Linked DNA regions of Homo sapiens. The protein of the gene in region 2 interacts with the protein of the main gene of each other region in a pairwise test. Each region holds a gene or a part of one and is shown on either strand. Other genes may lie near its edges. The genes, in order: TBC1D23 and NOPCHAP1.

Region 1 (4,034 bases), on a different chromosome or scaffold from region 2:
GATTTCTTGTTGGGGTGATAAAATGTTCTAAAATTGGTTGTGGTTATGGCTGTACAACTCTGTGACTATAATTAAAACCAGTGAATTGTACACATTAAAATGGTGAATTTTATGGAATATAAATTATATCTCAATAAAGTCGTTATTTAAAAAAAGAAAAAGTGCTTCAGTTGATTCTAACAAGCAACCAGGGTAGAGAACCATACAAAACACTTATACCTCATACAGTGTGGTATCACTTAGAAAGTAGTAAAAAATAAGAGTCAGTTAACTATCAAGGTCCAGATTAGCGGTTCTCCACCTTGGCTACACGCTGAAATTAATTAGTAAGCTCTAAACAAACTGATGCCTAGGTCCCATCACCAAGAGATTTTCATTTAATTACTCATGTATGCAAATAGTCATTAGGATTTTTAAGAGCTCCCCCAATAGTTCTAATGTGCATTCAAGGTTGTACAGCCAAGCCACTAGTCTAGACTATGTCTAAAGTTTCTTTTGGTACTAAAATTCTAACTATCTGATCTATTGCACTGGGAACTACAACAATTCTTTCTGGCCTCATGAGTGCTGCCCACCACCACGACCCCCACTACAACCCCCATCACAACCACCTGCACATCTGTCTGGTCTCAAATGCCACTTACCATGGGAAAGCCATCCCTGACCTCCAAGGTAAGTTAGGTTGCCCCCATTATACATCCCCATAGCACTCTATATTTCACCTTTCTAACATTCAGCACACTTCAATTTACTTGTTCAATGCCTATATTTCTAGGACTTCCTTCCAAGCTCAATAAGGTAACACCCCAGAAATTTTACTTTTCACCTGAACACTGTAATATTTTATAGGCAAATAAATTAAAATAGGGATACCACCAAATAAACTGGAAGAATTATATATATAAACTCTAGAAATTTTTAATTTTTAAATTATTTTTTAAAAATAAATTTCTGTGCATTATACAACACGTTATAAAAAACACATACATAGTAAAATGGTTACTATTGTGGAACAAAATAATGCACCTATCATCTCATATTCCCAATTTCCCCTCTGTGGCAAAAGCAGCTATAATCTACTTATTTAGCAAAAATCTTCAATATAATAGACTATTATTAACTAGAGTCCCCACATTGCATATTAGGTCTTTCGACTTGTTCATCACACCTATTTGCTATTTTGTATCCTTTTGACCTAAATCTCCCCACTTCCTCCCCAACTCCAACCCCAGTATAACCACTGTTTCAGAAGTATACATTTTTAACTAAAGAATCTTTTAAAAAATGTTTATAACCACAAAAATAAAATAACAATTATGGATCAAACAATCCTCAAAATTATTTGAACCTTTTACTTTACCGCCAAAGTAAATCTAGCAACTTTAGCTCAAAGCAAACCAGGCCTGTATTCACTTTTAAAAACTACAATAACTGAATCATATTTTACCTGGGAATGTACTTATTCATTATGGCATAAAAGCAGTTGTATAAATCGCTGCGTGGCAGTTGAAGATGCACCAATGGTTTCAGTAGATGTATCCAGCTAAGGGATGTGCTATATTTAATGTTACGTGATTTACAATAAAAGGTAATTACAGATTCAATATCCAAAAGTAATTCTGCTGCCTTCTCCTCTGGCACTGAAAGCTGGTCTAGAAAATAAATGTTAAAAATAAAGTTACTGAGGGCCTGTCAGGGGCTGTTATTGGACATAACACTTGTTTACAAATATATAATACTATGTTAGTGCATTTAGAGAAAGACAAAGTGAAACTACATGAAAGTATATTTTCCCTTATACTTATTTTAACAATCATTGGTTCACAGATCCAAAACCCAAGGAAAACACACAGTCAAAACGCTTTATAACAGCCTTTTTTTTTTTTGAGACGGAGTTTAGCTTGTCACCCAGGCTGGAGTGCAATGGCACGGTCTTGGCTCACTGCAACCTCCACCTCCCGATTTCAAGTGATTCTTCTGCCTTAGCCTCCCGAGTAGCCAGGATTACAGGCAAGCACCACCACACCCAACTAAATTTTTGTACTTTTAGTAGAGACAGGGTTTCACCATGTTGGCCAGGCTGGTCTCGAACTCCTGACCTCAGGTGATCTGCCTGCCTCGGCCTCCCAAAGTGCTGGGATTATAGGCATGGGCCACTGTGCCTGGCCTTCTAACAGTCTTTTAACTTTAAGACAGTTTAAAGAAAATTTAAAGAAAATTAAGAATAACAGTTTCACTTAAGCATGTTTTCTTACCTAGTCTGTTGAGAGAGAAGGGAAAGAAACAGAAGACTTCTATACATTCAGTATTTACTAAACATTAGCACTTAGTAATACCTGATCTATATATATGTCAAACATAAGAATGGCCAATCTGAATTAAAGGGATAGGTAAAGATAGGCATAGCCCATATTCCTGGGAAGCAAAAGGGTTTTCTAAACAGATTATCACCTACTCCATGATGGGCAGTTGTTGCTATAATTTTGGCAAGAAGAGGGAAAGGAATTCATTCTCCACTATCAAATTCTTTCTTTTGTCCACACCAGCAATAATGTTTCTGCTGTGCTTACCACACATAGGCCTATCAAGCTAATAATTTAACTAAAATATGATGGAAAGAGAAACAAAAATACAATGCACTAGAGATGAATTTAAAAGAAGTATAAACTAAATTCATCCACATTGTGAAATGAAATAGATGTTGTGGGGTGACTGGAAACCTATTCAATCACAATTTATAGTAGTTTCTCTACAGCAGTCCACAAACTATGATTTATAGATAAACTTTTGGAACAAAGCTCCCCTTTGAGGGCTGCATACAATCATATAGATCTTTAATTATATAAAAATCAAATTTAAGACTACAACAAACCCATAAATGTACATGAAAAATCTAACATATAATGCAAAAGAAACAGTAAAAACTAGGTTATCTTTTTTGTTTCTTTGAGATAGAGTCTCACTCTGTGCCCAGGCTGGAGTGCAGTGGTGTGATCTCAGGTCACTGCAACCTTTGCCTCCTGTGTTCAAGCAGTTCTCCTGCCTCAGCCTCCCAAGTAGCTGGGACTACAGGCGCCCACCACCACACCTGGCTAATTTTTGTATTTTTTAGTAGAGACAGGGTTTTGCCATGTTGGCCAGGCTGGTCTTGAACTCTTGACCTCAAGTGATCTGTCTGCCTTGGCCTCCCAAAGTGCTGGGATTCAGGTGTGAGTCACTGCACCCAGTCAAAACTAGGCTCCCTTAAAATTAATAGACAATATTTCATAAGAATTTCCAAAGAAAAGTTCTAAAGCTATTTACAAGCCTTTTACAAATTCTGAAATTATAAGATTATTCTGAAGAGTGATTCCTCAACCCAAAAATTATTTCCAAAATTTAACTCTGCTTGAAAGTGATTATTCAGCTTACCAATAAACTGCAGGCAATCTTTGTGAATAGTGTTCTGTTCTGGCAAGTCTAAAATACCATCCCATGATGCCAAACTATCACCTTTTCCTGCAACATTCAGAGCAATCTGGAAGAAAGATTTAAAAAGTGACTAGCTTCATATGTTATTCCTCATTCTTGGAAAATATGCTGTAATAATTAAAGGCCTGAATTTAAAAATAATAACAAAGATTACAATTAAGGTATCCATACTCCACCAAATGTTGAGTATTTAGTCATGTCACAACCAGCAGAATTATTTTAAGTCCTCCTACATTAGATATTTCTTCATGTTGATTTAGTGAATACAATAAATTACCCAAAATATTTATATATTTAGATATGTAAATTTACACAATCAATTTTTTTAATGTAAAAACAACAGAATGTACTGGCAAAGAAAAAGTACATCTGTGCCATGTACATTTTAAAATTATACAAAAGAATACTTAATAAATTGAGCAAATGTTTTCACTGTTTTGTAAGGTTTTTTTTAAAATGTAAAATAAACTGTATTGATTTAAAGAATCTTAAGTGACATATCCAAATGCAACAGGTAGACCTACTAGAATTCAAATTTAAACAAATCACCCATAAAAACACAT
Region 2 (3,500 bases):
GGCATTAGAATCTCATAAAGAGCGCACAACAACCTGGATCCCTTACATGCACAGTTCATAATAGGGTTCACGCTCCTTTTGGAATCTAATGCCACTGCTGATCTGACAGGAGGCAGAACTCAGGTGGTAATGCGCTCTCACCCACCGCTCACCTCCTGCTGTGCGACCTGCTTCCTAACAGGCCACAGACCAGTACCAGTCCACAGCCTGGGGGTTGGGAACCTCTGAGATAGAGAACTGCAGGCAGGATCATATGGACCCTTTGAAGGACTTAGTTTATTTGAAACGTGATGGGAAGCCCCCAGGTCCCAAACTGTGTGAACAACGGACCCCAGGGAAGGCACAGTGAACGCAGGAAAACCTGCTAAGAAATTGCTGCAATACTCCAAAGGAGAGGCCATAATTACCTGGGCCAACAAAGGTCCAAAGGAACTGCAGAGGTTGTACAAAGTGGTTGGATTTGGGATCTATTCTGGAGGGAGAGCTGAATAGAATGGCTAATGAATTAGATATTATTAACAATTGTCTCAGCTTGGTCCAGACACAGATATTATAAACGGAATTCCACTGCAGAAACAAGATATGAGTATAAACTGAGAGAACATTTTTGCACATAGCTTATGTAATCAATTGCTCTCTTCCACACATCATTTATTTTTGCATACTCAATAAATCAGGCTATGATTACCTCTTTTGGGGCTTGGACAGAAAAAAACCCAGTTAGGACATCGAGTAAATTAATGCTTCAGAATAACAAATGTAGCATTTGACTTAGGAAAAAAAACCTTCCTGTGACATCATATGACTAAAATGACTAAATCATAAAATGACTATGTACCTATACAACATTGGAAACATGAGCTAACACCAGGAAAATGAAAACTTGAAAATAAAATGGAAAAGTTCTCTTCTTCTTAGGTGACAGGCAGACCAGTAATTTCACCATATGAAAACAAAGCATAGTTACCATTTGTATAACTTTACTATGAGGCCCATCAATGTTTTCAATATTGAAACGACCAGGTGGTGCAGCTGCCATTTCTTTTCTTAGCTTTTCATTTGCCCGTGCCATCTGTGGGAGAAATGTCTGTACCTGGTCCAATACTGTGGAAAGTAAATACAGCATATCAACATTTATGCTAGTAAATTCTGAAACCCAGGATTTCCTATAAACACTTCTGAATTGAGTATTAATAATAACAACCATAATTACATATCTTTTAGTTCCCTTCATTTAAAAACCCTCCATCCTCTTCTGAATAAAACAGTAGGACTACACAATCCAGCAATTGTTTCACAAATGTTTTATGTTTCTCATATATCCCCAGGACTGTAAACTCCTAGAAGGCTGGCATTCAACAAATAGTAACTAAATAGGGAGGCAGTGTGACTTAACAGTTAAGAGCACCAGGTTCTGAGGCTTTAGGGTACGAATAACTAGGTATGTACAGAATCCTAGTTCTACCTCTATCTGAATTACCTTGGGCCAGTTAATTAAGTAGTGGTTATTTCTGCCTACCCAACATACGTTCCCTTTCTTCTGATAATATAACCCTGGCTTTCCTTTTAAGCTTGTGTCACTCTTAGTCACTCTTGCCCCTCACCCCATACATGCCTACATCCTCCATATCCTTGGCCACTGTACCATGCTTTAGTGGCATCACAGTGACACGCTGCTCTAGTCGGGCCAATAATAGATCACTCAGGACCTTTTGTTGGAACTGTTGAGAGAGAAATCTTTCTGAGTGAATGACTGAGTTGGCTGAATATAAGGCTGAAGCTGCTGATAAACTGGCAACTCTCCACACCTGGGGGAAGAGTACGCTCTAGATTAGGCCAATACCCAGGAAAGCAGAACTAAGAGACAGAGTGGCTGACCTCTGAGGACACTGAGCACCTGGATCCAGATGCACCTGAAATCTACTGTGCCTGGAGTATTTTTCCCCCAATAAAAAGAGCCAACATAATTTCTTTTTTTGCTTAAGGCAATCTGAGCTGGATTTTAGTCATTTGCAACCAAGAATCCTAATTAATACATTTAATTCTACCTCTTGAAACCTCAGCGTACTAATCCATAAAAGAGGAGTGATAACTGTCAGTCACTGTGCCAAATACAGAGCAGTCAACAAACAAGGATATTTATTTTCTCTCTCAAAAGAGGCCCAGCACATAACCACGCATATAACAGACTCTCAAAACTTATGTAACTGCTATGGCTACATAACAGATGACTAAAATGTCCAGCGTATGGAAGAAGAAAAGAAAATAGTGGCCAAGGTCAAGTAGACGACCTCTATTTGTAAAATAAGGTGCTGGAAGGACTCCCTAAGAGCATGCACACAAATAAAGCCCGACGTAATAGTGAATGTTAGCTCTCATTCCCCTTCAGATTACAGAAAGAGAAATTACTAATACAAATAAAGGTATTTCTCTGTCCTCAGATTTAAATATATTGCTACAGATAGAAAATCTGGTACTGCTTTTGTTTCCAACTAATGAATCAAGTAGAGCAAAACAAGTACCAAAATGTGCGGCCTGAACTGTGATCCTCAGAAGCCAAATAATTCCGTGGTACTCTAGGAGAGTATATGCTGAACCCTGAGGCTAGTCCAGTCGTGGTTCTTCTAAATTAAATAATACTCAACACACAACACCATAATATTCAAAATGTCCAACATCTAATAAAAAATTAGCAAACATGCAAATAAACAGGAAAACATAATCCATAAAGAGTAGGGAAAAAAGATTCAGAAATGATGCAGACGACAGAATCAGCAATAAGAATGTTAAAACAGCTCTTAGAAATATACTTTGTATGTTCAAGGAAGAAAAGAAAAGCACAAACACAAGGAAAGAAAAAAAGATGTAAACAGTCTCAAACTTCTAGAGATGGAAACTGTATCTACCTTGAAAAAATACATTTGATAGAATTAACAGATTAGACAATATAGAAGAATAGTGAACTCAACGAAATCAGCGATAGAAGCTATCCAAATTGAAACACACAAAACATAAGACCCAAACAAACAATCAATGAGCTGTGAGACAACCTCAACTGGCAAAATTAGGTGTCATTGGAGTCCCTTCAGGAGAGGCGAGACAGGAGCAAGCAACAACAACATCCCTAAAAATTTCCCAAATTTGATAAAAATTATAAACCCATAGATCCAGTAAGTTCAACAAACCCAAGCTCAAGACTCACAAAGAAAACTACAAAGGGCACATCACCATAAAATCGGTAAAAACCAGTAATGAAGGGAATCTTAAAGGCAGCCAGAGAAGAAAAGAAACACCATATTCATGACACAAAATGACAGTAGACACTGGCGTCAGAAACAATGCCACTGAAAAGAAAGTGTAGTGATGTCTTTAAAGTACTGGAGAAAACAGAAAAAGCAAAAAACCACACTGTCAACCTAGAATTCTAAATCCATTAAAGCATCTTCCAAAAACTGAAAGCAAAATACTTTCTCAGACACACAAAGGCTGGTAAGTCTATC

What was found.
Region 1: the proteins of NOPCHAP1 (region 2) and TBC1D23 interact in a two-hybrid assay, tested with the Homo sapiens proteins (one large-scale study listed by BioGRID and IntAct).

What each region holds. Positions count from the first base shown.
Region 1 is NC_000003.12:100,281,225-100,285,258, reverse strand, and holds part of TBC1D23 (TBC1 domain family member 23), read right to left. Parts: intron 3,518-4,034; coding exon 3,412-3,517; intron 1,653-3,411; coding exon 1,448-1,652; intron 1-1,447. UniProt on the Homo sapiens protein: Putative Rab GTPase-activating protein which plays a role in vesicular trafficking. Involved in endosome-to-Golgi trafficking.
Region 2 is NC_000012.12:104,989,316-104,992,815, reverse strand, and holds part of NOPCHAP1 (NOP protein chaperone 1), read right to left. Parts: intron 1,105-3,500; coding exon 968-1,104; intron 1-967. UniProt on the Homo sapiens protein: Client-loading PAQosome/R2TP complex cofactor that selects NOP58 to promote box C/D small nucleolar ribonucleoprotein (snoRNP) assembly. Acts as a bridge between NOP58 and the R2TP complex via RUVBL1:RUVBL2.